Linked DNA regions of Homo sapiens: all the other regions are linked to region 1. Evidence: fine-mapped expression QTL. A gene starts in region 1. Each other region holds a variant in brackets. All regions are shown on one strand. Distances are from middle to middle. Region 1 holds the start of LRRC8C (leucine rich repeat containing 8 VRAC subunit C). Region 2 overlaps LRRC8C (leucine rich repeat containing 8 VRAC subunit C). Region 3 overlaps LRRC8C (leucine rich repeat containing 8 VRAC subunit C).

Region 1 (6,016 bases):
ACTTAAAAACTCATTATTTCAATATTTAATATCAGGTCCTGTGCAGGGTATTGATAATGGACATAAAAGTGAATCAAGATACAGCCCTGCCCTGGAGAGGCTCCCAGACTCTGTAGTGAAGAGGCATGTAAAGAGACAAATGAGAGCATGCCATGGTAAGTGCTGTGGTCACACAAGGAAGGAAGAGTTATACTTGCCTAGAACCTGTGGAGGCTTCATAGAGAAGGTGACTTTTAAATTATGCCTTCAGGCCAGGCGTGGTGGCTCATGCCTATAATCCCAGCACTTTGGGAGGCCAAGGCGGGTGGATCACCTGAGGTCAGGAGTTTGAGACCAGCCTGGCCAACATGGTGAAAACCCATCTCTACTAAAAAAAATAAATAAATACAAAAATTAGCTGGGCGTGGTGGCGGGCACCTGTAATCCCAGCTAGTCAGGAGGATGAGGCAAGGAGAATTGCTTGAACCTGGAAGGCGGAAGTTGCAGTCAGCGAGATCACACAGCATGAGACTCTGTCTCAGAAAAAATTAATTAATTACGCCTTCAAGGAACAACTCAGCCCAGCCTGAGTTTTCTTACAGCTAACAACAAAACAACAATGTGACACAATTGCTGTTACCATACAACCCACTAGAGGGGTTACAGATATTCTAAGTCTCACCACAACCCTAAAAGGTAGTTATATTCCAATAGACTGATGAGGAAACTGAAGTTCATAGCTAGAGATACAAGATTTAAGCCCAGACCTATTTCATTCCAAATCCCTTACCATAGCCCTGCATAGCCCAGAAATATCTACTTCTGCTTCTATCACCAACCTGTACATGGTTAACTTGTAATTACACAGTCTTTAGTGTGAGAACTACTAACTCTGGAAGTCCAATTAGAATGTCAAAATTTAGCCTAAAGAATTGGGTATAAAGTGAAAGGTCAAGACAGAGTCTGTGCACCCAGTTCATCTAGCTCACAGTACCCTCTCCTTCCTGGAGATGTGCTGAACTTCAAGCACATTTGCTTCAAAATGGTTTATTCTGGTTTGTGTGTATGCATGATTCCCATGAACTATGAACACCCTGAAGTCGGAGAATAAGCCTTGTACTTCTTTAAGACCCTCACTCAAGTTGACTGATTGCTAATTCTACCAGTCCTTTACAGAGAGCTTGCTAAGTGTGGATGTTAATGTGAATTAGGTGGACTGAGGTAAGATCACTAGATTTAAGGTTTACATGCTACAAAATAAGAAGAGGTGAACTAACCAGTGTAGCATAGTTTTTAGACTAGTGGCTTTCAAGCATTAATGTGCATGTGAATCACCTGCCTACACGTGAAGAACTACCCAGTTGATCCAATTAGAAGGCAGACACAAGAGTAGCCAAAAGTATTGCAATAAAGCAACTTGGGGTGGACTCAACTTGCAGGGGATTCAGATCCCAGGTTTCCAAACCTTTTTGCTATTCCTGGTTCTTTTGCTTTCAGTGAAGAGTAGTTAAGTACAATAGTAGCTCTCATTTACTGACTACTTACAAAGTGATTGGCACTGTTCTTGGTGCTTTGAGCATATTAGCTAATTCTCACAGCACCCTGTAGTACTATACCTATAGGGATGATAAGGGGATGTGGGTGGTGGGGAGGGGGCAGATAAAAAGAACAGTAAATTTCCTAAGTTTAAACTGGAAGAATAGGGATTTCATCCTGGTTCACCTGAGTACAAAGTCTAAGGTTCAATGATTCCTTGACACTGGGTAGCAAGGGAGCATTTCAGGGATGCCTAAGCTTGTGGTCAGGTGCCAACGGTACAAAGATAGAAGTATATCAGAGAGCCCTTGCAGAATAAGGCCCTCCACAGGAGGGTTGTGACCTTGGTACTTGCCTCACTGTGTTTAAATTCAGGTAAGGTAAGAGAATTGAAGAGGTAAAGCTACCTTAGAGAGTATTGCTGCATCTACCCTGGTGACTTACAAGGTACTTGAATTTTTTTTTTTCTAGCAAACTGCTAAAGTTAGCCTTTGCCTTTTTCCCAGAGACTCTCTAGGAATTTTTCCCATCTGCTGACTAGGAGGTAAGCCCGGACCTAAATTTTTGTCTTGTTGTAGGTTAATTAAGACTGGTGTTAGATTCAGCTCCTAAGGCCTAAGAGAATTTAAGGTTGTCTTCTGGGAAGGACACCCAACAGCAGCATTGGAATTGGAAAAAAAGTGTAGGATTTTGCTGAGTGAGCAGGGGGAAAGCAATGTAAAGCCCAAGAGAATATCTTTTGAACAAACGTCCTTTTCATTTTGGTTTAGAAATAGAAACGTGGTAAAAGGAGGCGACTGTTTTCTGAAGGCTTGTAGCACGAAAACAGGCCAACTGGCCAGCAACTAGTTGTCTATCAGTTTCTCTACTCACATACATCTGCCTTTTCCAGACTGCCAGCGCGGAGCACTAGTTTGACTTTGGGTGCTCTTCAAATAGCTGGCATTGATAAGGCATTCCCAGAAGACTGTGTTACTTAGTAATCTTGTCGGTACATTTTTTCACTGGGCAGAGATTTTCCAAACAGAGAGCTGCCAGCTTTCAAGACGTCAGAGTGCTTTTTCATCCTGAAATTGGGTGGGAAAATGGGGAGAAGAAAAGCACGGTTCAGATCAATCAATGAGAGAGAACCCCTCCCTCCATACTCGTTAAACAACAGGTGGTTTTGCTGTGCACCGTCAACTCCTTTATGCGGGAGCTGTAGGCGGGGCATTCCAACTGAGTCTCCCTGGAATCTGCCCCTTAGCCCGTATTGCAGGGGCGGTGCAGTTGGGGATTCCGGCCTGAAAGGAGACTTGGTTGTCAAGGGGCTCAAGGGCTTCATGATCCAAGGATATTGGGTTTTGCTTTTCTCCTTCTCCATCTTCCTCATTCTATCCCACCGTCCCCTCCCCACCCTTCTCTTAGGAGGCCTTCGCTTCTCCTGTGGAGGGGTTATCTTCATCCTGACCCTGGCCTTCGGAGGAGTTCCCAGAAGGGCTATTTTTAGTGGTGGCTGCTCCCCTCTAACTTACCCAGGGGAGGAGCTGCGGTGGCTGAGCCGACGCTGCGCGCACAGCCGCCTGTGGTTTTCCGCGCATTGTGAGGGATGAGGGGTGGAGGTGGTATTAGACGCAGCCGAATCCTCCCTCAGAGTCCGCCAGGTGGGCGTCTCAGGGGTGGGAGTGGCCGCGTCGTGAAGCGGAGAGAGGATTTCTCTCCTGGTCCTGGAGAAGGCCCCCGGCGGCCGGCGGCATCCCTCGCTGGCGAGTCCCGGGAGCGAGGTGGTCTCTGCAGGGGAGGAAGTTCCCGGGCGGCGCGGCCTGCGTCACAGCGGGGCTGGCACCGCGGAGTCGACTCGGCGGGCGGTGGCGACCCCGGGGCCGGGCGCTGGGCGGCGCTGGCTGCCGCTAGCCGGGCTGCGTGCGGGGCGGCGCTGGAGGCGGCTCCGTCCGCGGCCGGGGAGGCGGAGGGGAGGAGGGCTTGCGGGGCTGGGGCGTTAGCTGCGTCCCGGCTGGAAGCCCGCGAAGAGAAGTAGGAGGAAGGCGCCGCCGTGGCCGCGGCCGCAGTGCTCGGGCGCGACAAGCCATGAGCAGCGACCCCGCGGGCGACGCCGCCGTCCCTGGCAGCCGCTGAGCCCGACCCCCAGGCAGCTCGCCGCTCCCTAGCACCTTCTCCAGTCGACACTCTCGCGCCCGGAGGTAAGGGCGGGGGATCCGCGGAGGGATGGAGAGGGGCAGCCCGCAGAGGGCCACCCGCTCGGTCCGCTGTGCGCGCCGGACCGGGACTCGCCCCGCCTCACTCGCGTCCTTGCTTCCCCCCGGCTCTCAGACAGGCAGAATGTGGTTGCCCGCCCGGCGTGTGGTGCTGGGAACCTTCCGCTACTGCGGCTCAGGAGCCCGCCAACCCCTACCCCACCCAATCCGCGCTAGCCCGAGCGGCCGCGCGAGGATCTCAGCCTGGCGCCCAACGCCGCGCCGCAGCGGCAGGTCCTGCAGACTGGGCGCGGGGGTGGGGGGGCGGTCCGCGAGGGGAAATGCGTCCGTGGCCGGGGCGATCGTTGTTCTTTCCTACCTCGAAAATCTCTGAGACCCCGGGGCCAGTCCTTTCCGGTCTATCACCCCCCTGCCACCTCCGAACCCTTGAAGTTAGCACTTTTGGGCAGGGAAAGGAATTGGAAGGTTTCTCGAAGAAACGTGAGAGCACCGTGTGCTCACCTGCAGGACAGGAGGGAAGGGGTTCAGCTTGATCGGGCGGGCCCCAGAAGCCAGGTGTTTAGGCCAGCGGTTGAGGCCAAAACCGCTGCCTTCATCCCACGCCTAGGCTCGCTGATCTTTCCCTTTCCAGCTGGTTCCCACCAATGAGATGATTAGGGATGGAGTTAGCAACTCAGGAGCCTTAGATGTGTTCTGTGGACACGAATGCCTTTCTTTTCTCCCTCAGCCGGTTCTTCCCTCCCCAACCCCCACGCCTGCCCGGTATACAGCAAAGTCCAAACAGTTTCTTCCAAACCTCGCATCCTCCGTAGTTTTGCAACAGCCGGACACCTAGCCCGCATCCTAATGCGGATATTTCAGAGTATTACGGCTAAACTTCCCTTGGTTTCAAATTCCTTAAACATGTTAAAGCCTCAGCAAACGTTAGGAAACATTTTCAGGTTCCCATCCTCAAAGTAAAAAATAAGAACCAATCCATCTTTGTTGGAGTGCCGGTGTTTGGCACGGGGAGGCTTGAATTACCTCCATTTAAAGCAGCCTTTGAAGGAAGGAATAGGTAAAGGAAATCGCAGCCGTTTGTAAGTCACATACTTCTTTCGCGGTAGTGTGAGAAACGTAGCCTTAACCAACAGTCACATTTCCCGACAGGTATGTGATGGTTTCCCAAAGCATCGATGAGGCTTCAGCGTGGGCAGGTCATTAAGATGCCATTTAGACGAAAAAGGAGTAAAAGTGGAGTAGTCCTCTTGGTTAGCACAATGCTGCAAAATCGCCAGAGCCAATAATTTTTATACATTTATAAATTCTGTTTATTTTTAAATAATTTGTTGAAAACCCAAAACGTAATCTGAGCTGCATAAAACTCGCTCAATTCATAAACAATGTGTTGAGTGTGTAAACAAACATTAAATGTATACAGCTCTAGTCTAGGATATTTGCATTTCTTGTGACTTGCTTTAACAGGGAAGGCCAAGGCTATAATTGGTTTGCTTTACTCTGGAGTGATTAAGTTCTGTCTTGGGGTCAGTTTGTTTCCTTTGAGGGGGATGTAGGGCAGTTTTGCAAAGATGGATATTTGCCATGGTTCACATAATAGATTGGGCACAGACAGGACCCATCAACCCAACAATTGTATCAGAGATACCAAGTATATTTAACAATTTTCTTATTAATAAAATCAAGCCTTTATTAATAGTACTAATCTATTATTTCTCAGATTAAGCACTTTAATGAAATGTATTTTTAAAAGGGAATGCTTTTAGTGAAAATAATGCATTAGGAGCTGTAAGATAAATGAATGAAAATGTTGCACTTTATTTCCATGAAGTTTATCTTTTAAAAAACAATACAAAGTTAGAAATATGTTTAACTCCCAAGTGTTCAATTTTTACCAAATTGTTATGATTTTTAATACTCTATAGTATTATTAAGTTATAGTCACCTATGACATTATAATAGAGCGAGCCTAAGTTTAAAATGAAATGAGGTGGAAACTATATTTATTTTGCCAAGAATTGTGTTAATGATTTAATATGGTACATTGCTATAACATAATCTAGCTGCATGCTAGATACCTAATACACATTATCTCAGGTTCTTACAATGAACCCCTAAGGTAAATGGTGCCATCCACATTTTACATAAGAAGGAAGTTCAGAGTTTCTGATTTGGCTGAAGACTATGCAGCTAAGTTAGTGCCTGAATGAAGCCAAGCCTCCTTAGTCTTAATGATATACTTTTTTTTATTATCCAAAGCTGCTTATTTATTTTTTCTATATAAATTTGTTGTTAACTCACCATAGTGA
Region 2 (6,016 bases), 87 kb after region 1:
TTTCACTGACTATTAAGCATGTAGAACAGGAAAATGAAATACACTATTTGTGCCCTTGACCTAGAACCAGAACCACTAATTATGAGAACTTTGTTTTATGTACCAAATTCACATTGACCATTTTCTGAGCTCTAGACTGATCGTAGTAAGTTTTGTGACTTAACAATGAAAGAAAGTAGAAAGATGCTTTGGGTTTTCAAAATGTTGTTTTTTAAAATTGTTCTTTGGGTGAATTTACTCAGTGCTGCTTTGAGTTGTATACAGAAACAAATGTTGGGAATTGCTCCTCAGAAATGTGTTCCTAAGTTGTGTTTTCAACTTTACATCATGAGGTGAAGCATTAGGGAAAGAGATTCTTTCGATTTGTTTAATAATCTAATTATACAGACCAAAGTGCTTTACGTTTCTGCTCTATGTTAATGTTTTAGAATGGTGATTTTGCTGATTAATTTAGACCTGGAATTGAAATAATGTGCTCAGAATAATAACATGGTTATAGTTCTTGTATGATAAAGTATTCAATTTCAGAATAGTGTTGGAATCCTGAGTTTGAATAATGTGTTGTATTTAGAAACATAGCCCTATCTGTTTTAAACAAATAATTTGTTGGCCGATTGTCCATGGTTGAGCATGACAAAAATACCTCGTCGAAAGGCAAGCTTAGGTAACTGCTGGCAAAACACTGGGTGCACTATTTTTCTGGATAAAATTTATAGTTATTTTCTATATTACCCTTCAAAAGGGATCTCTTCAGGTTAAAAATCACGCTTATGCTGAAGTCTTTATCTGGTGTTAACTAAAAATCTCATATGGGTTCATAACCGAGGTCACTAATAATTCATTTTTATCACTTGTAAAAATTTGCTCAAAATTCCAAAAAAATATTGATTTGTTTTTTAGTGATTTTGCAGGCTGACCCCCAACCTAAGTTTTGATAACATCTGGTAAGTCAGTATAGTTCTGTGACTTCATGTTTTAACTAAGAAGGAAAATTCATAGATATTCCTATTAGATTTTATAAACCTTCAAAAGTCTGAAACTTAATTTTGAGTCTAAATTTTCTGACACTGGCCCCTTTTAATATTGTAAGTTTTTGTTCACTTTCTTAAGTAAAAAAAACATTTAATTACTAGTTAGCCCTTAACTGGGAAACTCAGGTAATGAACTGCTGACTTTTCTAAAGTTCTTTAACTGATCAATTCTGTATAGAGGGATATTTATCTAACCACTTTCCGTATTTTACAAGTGCTCTTTCTAAAAAGGAATAACTATTATAGCTCTATTTCCCCAATCTCTATAGGACTCATGAGAGATTGCTTGTGTAAATATAAAAGCACCATATGTGTTCTTAACTCCTATGGCTGCTTGAAGCTCATGATGAAAAAGTCTTTTTGTCAGTTTTAATTGTTAAGTACAGAACAAACAATTGTTTGGTGATGGCCTGGTTGAAAGAGAGCATATAAATATATCCCAGTGGAACTCACCAAAGAAGACCACACCTCAGAAATTATTGCATTTTCTCATTATGTGTTGGGTTTGATTTGCTTTTGTTTTTAATGCAGCTCTTTTAATATAAAGATTCTTGATACAGTGAAATCTCTTATTTCAAGTGTAAGTTATTCTTCACCCACCCCTTCCCCTGCCATTGTATTTCCCATCTGTTTCAAGGAGTTTCAACAATTTACATTGCATCGTATGCAGTAGGTACTGCTTTTTCAGAAAGACCTGGAAAACATACCTGCTATGAATATTTTGTTCAGATGTAGCCATTTACCTGGCTCTCAAGTTGTCTTTGTGGAGAGGGTCTTAGACAAAAATCTTCCTTGTATTTACTTGGGTTAAGTGAAGTCCAAATTCTTACAGTATGCTATTTCAGGATTTCTGATATTAAAAAAGAAAAAACAAAATCTTTATATCTCTTATTAACACTTCCCCCAAGAAGGGTTGTGCTGTTATTTATTTTCTATTATAAGAAAAGTTCATTCTTTAAGTAGTTTCTTTTACCTCTAATCTAATTTCATACCAAATACCTGATCAATAGAAATGATATATTTAAGCAGCAAAGATTCCTAATCCATCATTATGAAAAGTGTCAGCATACTTAGTAGTGAACAGATAAAGTCAATTTGAATATAATTCCACTTTGTTTTTAGAGACTAAATTAAGATTCAATTAACATTATCCTATGAATTCTGAATGTGATAATGTGATTCAAACAGTCAAATTTTATTAAGCTCTTAGTAACTCAGGATAGCATTCCATACTAACCTCAAGTTAGCAAAACAAATTAGTTAAACAGCTTGGTTCTTAGCAGACTGCTTAAAAGATCAAGAAAATTTTCTCATCTTTTCTTTCTACTTAGAAACATTGCAAGAAACCTTGGACAGTCTTCACCAGACCTGCCATGATTTTATAAGATTTAGGCCTCAGTGACATGCTCCTGAAAGTTTCCTGCCAGCCATCCAAACTAAGCATCCACTCATTCCATCTTCCCAAAGTCACTCACCGATAAAGGTAGCATCCTTAAGTTCATTTTTGAAAGGTGGAGGAGGATCTCCCCCTGCCCAAAGGAATTTTTTTATCAGAATACCTTGAAAGGGGGGTATATAAATTTGGAAAACTTAATTTCTTGGCTGTGTTTGATAACAGTTCCTATGCATGGTTTTTAATGTGAGGTAAATTTGTTTCTTTCTTCAGAATACCTCTCTCCACCCCCCACCTTATTCTTCCTCTTTAATGAATATTTTTATTGGAGCTCAAACTCCATGACTTACGTGCTCACTAAGTTTTCTTTTTTCCCCTTGTTTACTCTGTCTGTATGTATGTCAAAAGCTGGCAAAACCTCTAAAACTGTCAAGAAAATGCTTGAAAGTTGATTTGTCATAGTGCAAATTCATGATAAAATGTCTTAATGTTATTTGGATATGTAGTACATAGAAACAGAAAAATAAAGTCATTTTTATAACTTAAAATAGATATTTGTCC[C/G]TCTCTTACTCATTTTTAGAAATCATGTTTATCGTTTGCATTTCTTAAACTATTACTAAAGCTCCCTTTTCTCTGCAGGAAATAAGCTGCATGCATTCTTTCACTTTGTGTTGAGCTAGTTTCTGTAATTGTGACTAATTATTTCCTTCCTTAATTCACTCTACTGTATCTACCTAAGGTGCCCCTGGAGTTTCATTTGGGTAATTAGTGCCTTCATATGTAATCTGGAGTGCAATTTCTGTACGTTTGCCAGATGAGATTGTACAATGGCTGTCCAGCTCAGCTTTCAGTAAATAGTCTTATAGTAATGACTGTGGTTACTTAAAGGAATCAGCATGATCCTGCACAGCTAGGAGGCCTCCTCTAATTAACCACATTCACTCCAGGCTTAGGGAAGCCCTCTACAAGGAAACTTTATGACCACTTACGCATAAGAAATGATGGGTAATTTTCAAAGTTAAATAGTCCCTTTACACATTTTTATTAATAATAGTGTTTATTTTACTGATCATCAGCCCTCTGGAGAAGGATTGTTGAGATAAGGAAGGGTGGTGAGTGTGATGGGAGAGGCTGTGTAAGTGTGAGTAGCACAAATTAGAAGAGATCATGTGAGAGCTCTGGAGAAATTCTGGAAAGGAGCTAGGGAATGCAATAGATTAGAGACATCTGGCGATTTCAGTGCAATCTGCACGTACAGAAAAAACTGCCCACTGCCATTCTCCACTGTCCCATCTTCTAGTCCTTTCACTTACACAGAGTATTGAGATAAACTCTGAAAAATTTTAAATTGGTTATTATTGGCTAGCAACATAAGCTTTTCGTTTGGGTGAAGAAGTAAATGCATAAAAAGGAAGTTATTAAAGTTCATTTGAGACTCAGTGGAGTATTTACACGGTCAGAGCACAAGGCCCACATATTTCTGAATGTAAGTTTGAATGTCATCCTAAATTTGCAAGTAGGAAAAAAGTGAAAGCTGTTCATTAGCTACATAATTTTGTGTGAGCATAGATGTTTGAATGCAGACTATACTGTAGGTTTCACATTTAAACATATTTGAACATATTTAGGGACAAATTATTAAAATAGTTATATGATCAGGCATATCATAAGTGATAGAATATTCCCAGAGTTTGAATATTTTGCATAAAAGATACAGGGTAGGCAATGATATCAAACATCTAAACCAAATTGGCCATTCCAATTATTTTAATCCAGGGATTTTTCTGTTATAAAGTTTGAGAAGTAGAAAATGGGCTTTCTCCTTATTTTTTAATCCTTTACAGAATTAATTTTATTTCAACTCGAGTTACATCTGGACTTTTGCCATTAAAAAAATACTGCTTGGTTCAATCCTTATTAGCCTCAGGTAAAAGACATCTCAGGAAAAGTGACACAAAAGAGGCAACCTCTAAGTTTTACATTTTTTATCTCCTCCACAGTTCTTCTAATTAAAAAAAAAAAAATCAACTCCCCAGAAGTGATGCTGATATGGCAAAAAAAATATATAGCATTTCTTCACTTTGAATTGGGAAGGTTCTTGGGATTTCATTGTAATTTAACATAGACTATGTGTGACAGTTTTGTTAAAATCATACTCTAATATTCAGACAGCTTAAAAATCTTTCTTAGGATGATTTAGTCCAAGAATAATGAAAACCAATGCAAAAATGTAAAGATGTACTCCCTATGCATTTGAGCAATAAATGTCCACAAGCTTATGAAATGAGTTCTATTCATGTCTATTGAGCTGTATGGATAAATTATATCTTAGTAATTTAAATTTCTTTGTGAAAACTAGGTTGTCAAAGTTGCCACTCTTAACAAAATTCTAAAAGGCCATGTACAACAATGATATCAAAATGAAAACCAAGTTTTATTCAATGGGTGCAGGGCGTTTCTGTGAGCCTTACCAACAGGAAGTCAATTTGTTCAAAATTAGAAGACTATTTTTTCTGAACTCTCCCCCAGGTTCTAGCCTCTGGTGGTGTGACTCATAGACTTCCCTGGTAATCACACTTTGAGCCTTAACAATATCAGCATGCTAACAGATTTAGTAGTTTTATGCATTTAGAAACAAAGACAGGATGTTGACAGCCTTAAGTGATGAAGTATTTAAAATAAATTCATACTTGTAAAACTAAAAACTAGAGATTCCAATCTAAACATTTAGCTACGTAAATATTTTCTTAAGTCCACGTAACCTCTCAAAGAAACTGATTTCATGTCAAATGGGAAATACAAAGAATGTCAGATTAAACACCTGGTTTATATTAAATAAGGCTGTCATTTGTTGGGGGGCAAGGGGAGAATGGAGCTTAGAAAGCAGACTCCTGATAAGGGGTGCTTAACACACTTTCTAAAATTCAGAATGATTTGTTGCCCTTCAAATTCTACCAGCTTTAAAATAATCAAATCTGGGCCGGGCGCGGTGGCTCACGCCTGTAATCCCAGCACTTTGGGAGGCCGAGGCGGGCGGATCACGAGGTCAGGAGATCGAGACCATCCCGGCTAAAATGGTGAAACCCCGTCTCTACTAAAAAACACAAAAAATTAGCCAGGCGTAGTGGCGGGCGCCTGTAGTCCCAGCTACTTGGGAGGCTGAGGCGGAGAATGGGGTGAACCCGGGAGGCGGAGCTTGCAGTGAGCCGAGATCCCGCCACTGCACTCCAGCCTGGGCGACAGAGCGAGACTCCGTCTCAAAAAAAAAAAAATAATAATAATAATAATAATAATAATAATAATCAAATCTGAAGTACTGCAAACCAGCTAGGTAATTATTTTCAGGTAACGTTCCCTAACTCAGAAACTGCTAGTGACTATTAAGTGCTTCAGTTATAAATCTGATCAAGAACTTGCATCAAAAATGCCAGGAAGTTAACTTCAAAATCTTATGGGAAAAACTGATAATGACATTCTCCATCCCCCTCCCCATCTCCCCACCTGCCAAACTATATCCTGCGTGGATATTCTTAATAGCACAGCACTACACTATGGTAAACAACTGTAAGACAAAAGTTGCATTCTGGGTTGT
Region 3 (6,016 bases), 61 kb after region 1:
GGAGGAGGCATCATCCACCAGAATGGGAATGATAGCTACAGATACATTTTTATTTGGTAGGGAGACAGAAAGACAGGCGTCTGTGCCTTATGGCTTGTTGTTTCTCTGTGATGGAGAAAACAACATTTACTGAGAGGTTGTGAGGGTGAGGAATGCAGTAGGAATTGGCAATAAGGAAGGTAGTAGAGCAGGGGTCTCAAGGAGAAGGTTAGATTTGGGGTGGCTAGCTTGGGAAATAGTAGAGGAAGGTGACATAGATTAGCGGGAGCACTATCAACCTGTCTTTATTACTGTGCCATGGCTCAGAGCGCTGCTGCAGGATCTGCCTAACAAGCACACGGAATTGTTTCTCTTGTTTACACATTCCATGGCAGGATGAAAAGAGAAAGAACACAGAAAATCTTTTAGAATAAATAGTTAACTTGCAATGAAATGAATGAAAATAAGAGTGTACCTATGAAAATGTCTATAATGAGCATCATTTAGGAGATGTGCCTGCGGTAAGTTCAGGAGGGAATTCAAGCACAAGCTAAACCTCTTTTCCTGTGTGCTGGTCAGAATCATCTTCCTGCAGCACAGCCCCACAGTGTCTCTCTACAGTCCAGAAGGCTTTTGGGCTCCCCGCTGACCAGCCTTCTCAGCACCACCACTCTTACCTCGCACAATCAGTGGCTCCTGCTCAGACAGGTTAACTAACCTGGGCCCTTCACACATAGGCCTTTTTCATCTCTTCAGCCGTTAAAAAGAAATCTGATGCCAGTTGACTGGGTACAAGAAGTGTTGTCTGAGATGACAAGGTTCTGAGAAAAAGTGAGATGCCAAAAGAAATATTGCTTCAGAATATGAAGGCTGCAGGGCACAGAATTCATACGGGGTGGACTACTCAATTCAACAAACAATCCTGTGCATCAGCAATATATCAGACACTCTGTGGGGTGTTAGATGCTAAAAGAAAAACAGCACAGCCCATGCCTTCAGATTGCTAATTGTCTGAAGACCATAGAAACACATAAGCAATGTTTTCCAATATGTAAATGCCTTAATGGTGCCTCAAGAGCATCAAATATGATGTTGTCATCTCAGTCACTGGAAGTGAGGGACTCAAGAAGATAATTGAGTGAAGTCTCAAAGAATGAATATACAAAACCAAAATATATATTTTAATAAGACGCATGAAGGGGAAAACTCAGCATTAACAGAATATTTAGTGTGATCATTTTACAAAGCCCTCATGGATTGGCACAGTGACCGGAGGGCCCAGATGGCATTTTTCGGAGAGGGTGGGGTCAGGGATATTAAACATCCTGCAATCGGTGGGACATTCCCACACAGCAGAATTGTTTTATCCAGAATGCTAATAGCACATCCATGGAGTAACACTGGCAAGAGAACCTGTGCTAGAATCTGTATGTACTTTATTTAGTTCCCAGAACAAACCTGTGAAAGTAGATTAGTCCCATTTTTCAGATGAGAATTCCAAAGTGTAGAAGGTTAGATAACTTGCCCCAAAGCCAAGAGGGATGCAGCTGAGATTCCAATCTTAGGCTGATTCTCCATGAGGCGTCTGTCACCCCTGTGCACACTGCTATCAAATATTATGGAACCATCACAATTGCACAGATTGTGAGGGCAAGGTTTGGCTTATAAAACAGGATTTTCAGTGTAAAAGCAAGTACAAAATGATAAAAAGAGAAAATCGTTACAAAAAGTATCAATTTTATGAATTATAAATTAAAATTTTAAGGGGCATTCACTATATACCTGCTATTTAAAAAGAAAAATTTGCACTCTATAGTGAGCATTAACAAAACAAGAAAGAATGCATGGTACAAATTATCAAAGTAAAACTACCTAGGATCCATATAACAAATTAATGTTCCATAGGGGAAGAATTTAAGCTCTTATTTTAGCTCTGCTATGATAATCCACTAAAAATGGCTTAATGACTGATAACTTTATAAACAAAGGATTCTCTGTGAAGCTCAAGTTCCTTTCTCATTCCCAAGGCGATGTTAAAATTGTTAAAATATATTTTTATGTCTTGATTTTCCACTTGTAAATTGAAAGTGTATCATTCTTTCTGATCTTATTTACAAAGCAAGTTAACTCCTATATTGGAATACATGACAAGGCAAAATCTAAGGTGAAGTTAGAAGAACACTCTTTGATGATAAAATAGTAATCCAACAGCTTTTAGAGTAACTATTTTGTAAGTTGCTTTTTTCATGTCAAGTTAACAGTTGATATCTGTTTACTCCTAAAAGATTGTATTCATATAGGTTCAACACTACTCAGCTTGGAAAATACTGGGGGATTAAGGAGATTATTTTCTATCAAGGGGATGTTGATTCTTTCTTGCACTTATGTAAAAGGATTAGAACCAGCACTTTTGCCTTACTTGTCTGACAAATATTTATTCATTTCTGAGCAAGTAGCTCTTTTCAAGGCTGCCATGAAATAAGAGCATGTATAAAGAGCATTCCTTAGATTACATCAATCCACATAAGAACAAATATAAACTCACTATAAGCCAGGAGAGTGTAGGAGTATATGTGTCTGTCCTATTCCTGTACAGTCATACACCCTCAAGGACCAATAGTGTAAACACCCAACTTTGTGCTATAAACAACACTATTCAAAAACTCAACACATTCAACAAAATAGACCATATCCTGAAAGGTCAACACGTTGCTTCCTGGAAAAATAAGATTGCTTTAGATCTCTGCTCAGTGACTCCAGGTTATCTTATTATGACCAAATCCAAAACAGCCCATGGGCAGACCGTTACCAAATATAGAATTAGCAGTTAGAAACCAGAAACAGGAACTGGAAGATGCAAGCCCCCTGGAAGCCCTAGGGGACCTGCCTTGTGATTGTGACATAGAAAAGACATTTCCTGCTTTCTGAATTTGGAGGGGAAAAAAGAATTATTTCAATGACAAAGCCACCTACAAAAAAATCCTGGAAGATTTAACCCAATCACTAGGAG[C/T]GAAGTGGCCAGCAGGGTCACACTATCAAAAAGGTTAGGACATGTGAGTTTTTTGGTTAGAGCTGATCCCCGCTTTGATTTTTAGGGCATACTGAAATTAATTTCTACTTCTCTGATTTAGAGCCATCAATGTCAGCTCCATGACAAATGACCTTCAGGTGAAAATGCTCATAGGCAGTTCACTGGAAAGTACAGGCAATCAGAATTATAGATTCCAGAATGATATCAGAAGACTTCATTTTGACAATGTGCCCTGAATTCTTGCTTCTACTCCCCCCATGCAGTCATCTGCTGTATACTGTCTGGGATTTCTAGTAGATCTTTTTCTTTGGCCAAATTTGAATTTTATAGATAGAAGCCCAGAAATTCTTACTTAGAATCAGTAATACTGATTACATCAGAATACTGATGAAATCACAGATAGAAGTGAAGGCTTAAAATCAAGACCTCATCTCAGATATGTTCCTTTTCTTTTATCTTTTCTTCCTTTTTTTTTTTTTTTTTTTTTTTTTTTTTGAGACAGAGTCTCACTCTGTCACCCAGGCTGGAGTGCAGAGGCGCGGTCTCGGCTCACTGCAACCTCTGCCTCCCAGTTCAAGCAATTCTCATACCTCAGCCACCTGAGTAGCTGGGTTTACAAGCATGCACCACCACACCCAGCTAATTTTTGTATTTTTAGTGGAGACAGAGTTTAACCATTTTGGCCAGGTTGGTCTTGAACTCCTGGCCTAGAGTGATCCACCCACCTCAGCCTTCCAAAGTGCTGGGATTACAGGTGTGAGCTACTGCACCGGCCCAGTTGTATAAAGTTTCCATGTACCCACCTTACATCTCCGTTCTACTAGGGTCTTTGGGGAATATAAAACAAAAATTATTTAGATAGTGAAAATAATTGTAAAGAGCAACCTTTGTCATCTCTGTGGGGATGGTAGTGAATGGTGTGAAAGAAACACTATTTCAAAACCTCTGTTACATCTAGTATCAAAAATATGCCTTAGTTGGGACCTTCTTTTTATGGTGGTTTATTTGAACTGACACTTTTGATCTTCCCTAGAATTTTACTTCTTGTCATCTATCACCTTGACAATTTTATGTGGACTGAATTCCAATTTTATGTGGACTGTATACAGGGTGGTTATAGGAATACAGGAATAAATTATATTCCAGGGAGAAAAAAGTGATATGGTGTATTACAGAAGATAAGACTTGTGGGGCATGGTAACATTCTACAGATGTCCACTTGGGGGTTTCTAGCAAACAAGGACTTTCAGCTCTGCTTCATTTTGTTTCGTTTGTTTTGTTATTTTGGAGACGAGTTCTCACTCTGTTGCGCAGGCTGCTTTGAAACTCCTGGGCTCTAGTGATCTTCCTGCCTCAGCTTCCTGAGTAGCTGGGATTACAGGTGCGTGACACCATGCCCAGCTTCTTTTTTTTTTTTTTTTTTTTTTGAGATGGAGTCTCACTCTGTCACCCAGGCTGGAATGTGTGCATTGGCATGATCTCACTGCAACTCCACTTCCCGGGTTCAAGTGGTTCTCCTGCCTCAGCTTCCCTAGTAGTTGAGATTACATCCATGCACCACCACACCCAGCTAATTTTTGTATTTTTAGTAGAGACGGGCTTTCACCATGTTGGCCAGAATGGTCTCAAACTTCTGACCTCAAGTGATCCACCCGCCTCAGCCTCCCAAAGTGCTGGGAGCCCAGCCCATGCCCAGCTTTTTTGTTATAATAGCACTTCCTGTTTCTAATAAAAGTATAAAGACTTTTTTTTTTTTTTTTTGATACAGAGTCTCACTGTCGCCCAGGCTGGAGTGCAGTGGCTCAATCTTGGCTCACTGCAACCTCCACCTCCTGGGTTCAAGCAATTCACCTGCCTCAGCCTCCCGAGTAACTGGGACTACAGACGTGAGCCACCATGCCCAGCTAATTTTTGTATTTTTAGTAGAGATGGGGTTTCACCATGTTGGCCAGGCTGGTCTCAAACTCCTGACCTCAGGTGATCTGCCCCCCTCGGGCTCCCAAAGTGCTGGGATTACAGGCATGAACCACCGCGCCCGGCCCTATATAAAGGCTTTTGAACATACATAGTGACATTTTTCATCATGTAATGACAAGTTCAAAATGTTAAGTTTCCTAAGAAGTGTTTGAACTACTGGCAGTAATAGGGTCAGCTATCTTAAAATAGAATTGGCATCTCCCTACTCAAGTTATTTTAGTTCTTAAAAGCTGGTGAGATTCTTTGCACTGATATCCAAAGCTGGGGCTATGTGACCTTAAGTTCAATATGTTAACTTACTGTTTAGGATGTTGATGTTAAATGTTATAGGTGATAGATATTGGACTCAGAAAATGCTTAATGCAAGCTGAGACAGTGTTGTAGTGATATTCACTTGTAGAACACTTGTATGCATGATTATATCAGTTAGTAGTCACTTAATTTTATATTTTTAGAATTCTGCAAAAATCTTTTGTCTAATAAATAGGCCATCAACTATCTCATCATTTTACCTTGTAAGAAACCTTATATGCTCACTGGAAATAGAAAACCTGGATTTAAAAAAAATAATAATTTCAGCTAGATCAAGTTAATTTAAAGAGAAAAAACAAAATCTTTCCCCAAAACTTCAAACAGAAAGCATGGGCTCTCTCATATGCTCTTAGTATGAGTTTAGGTGAAACACATGGCTTTTCTGAGGCCCAGTTTTATAAAATGAGCAGGATAGGCATCACTTCCATTTTACAGTTTTATTGTGAAAAAAATGGTGATAAAATAGAAATGTATTGTTTTTAGTCTCTTTAGAAACTGTAGACCTCAAAATGTCTTCTCTGGGCAATTACTCTGATCCTCCCCAATTGAAAAACAAAACAAAAAACTGCCTTCTCTTCATTTGGGGCATCTTCATATAGTCATAAGTGTGATTAGTTGAGTCTTGACAAACAGAGATTGAGAGAGGTCTTGAATCCAGGACCAAATGCCCTAATTCTGATAGCTACCTACATCTGTCTCCCAGAAGACTTTGCAGGA

Evidence for each region. PIP is the estimated chance that this variant, and not a neighbour inherited with it, causes the effect.
Region 2: its variant is the best candidate, but not a certain one, in a credible set for the expression of LRRC8C in lung (TOPMed, PIP 0.76).
Region 3: its variant is the best candidate, but not a certain one, in a credible set for the expression of LRRC8C in T cells (TOPMed, PIP 0.66).

Annotation. Positions count from the first base shown.
Region 1 is chr1:89,629,628-89,635,643 of GRCh38, forward strand. LRRC8C (leucine rich repeat containing 8 VRAC subunit C) reads left to right here and starts at 3,493. Exons shown (of 3, transcript NM_032270.5): 1 at 3,493-3,695. LRRC8C-DT (LRRC8C divergent transcript) reads right to left here and starts at 3,267. Exons shown (of 3, transcript NR_033981.1): 1 at 3,030-3,267; 2 at 2,389-2,582. RefSeq lists a silencer at 3,295-3,954 and enhancers at 4,335-4,384, 4,415-4,464.
Region 2 is chr1:89,716,562-89,722,577 of GRCh38, forward strand. It overlaps LRRC8C (leucine rich repeat containing 8 VRAC subunit C), which reads left to right. Exons shown (of 3, transcript NM_032270.5): 3 at 1-2,972. Among named protein-coding and RNA genes, the nearest start is that of LRRC8C, 86 kb to the left of the region's middle. The variant C/G (reference allele first, on the strand shown) is at 2,986.
Region 3 is chr1:89,690,171-89,696,186 of GRCh38, forward strand. The region is part of intron 2 of LRRC8C (leucine rich repeat containing 8 VRAC subunit C); the gene reads left to right. Among named protein-coding and RNA genes, the nearest start is that of LRRC8C, 60 kb to the left of the region's middle. The variant C/T (reference allele first, on the strand shown) is at 2,990.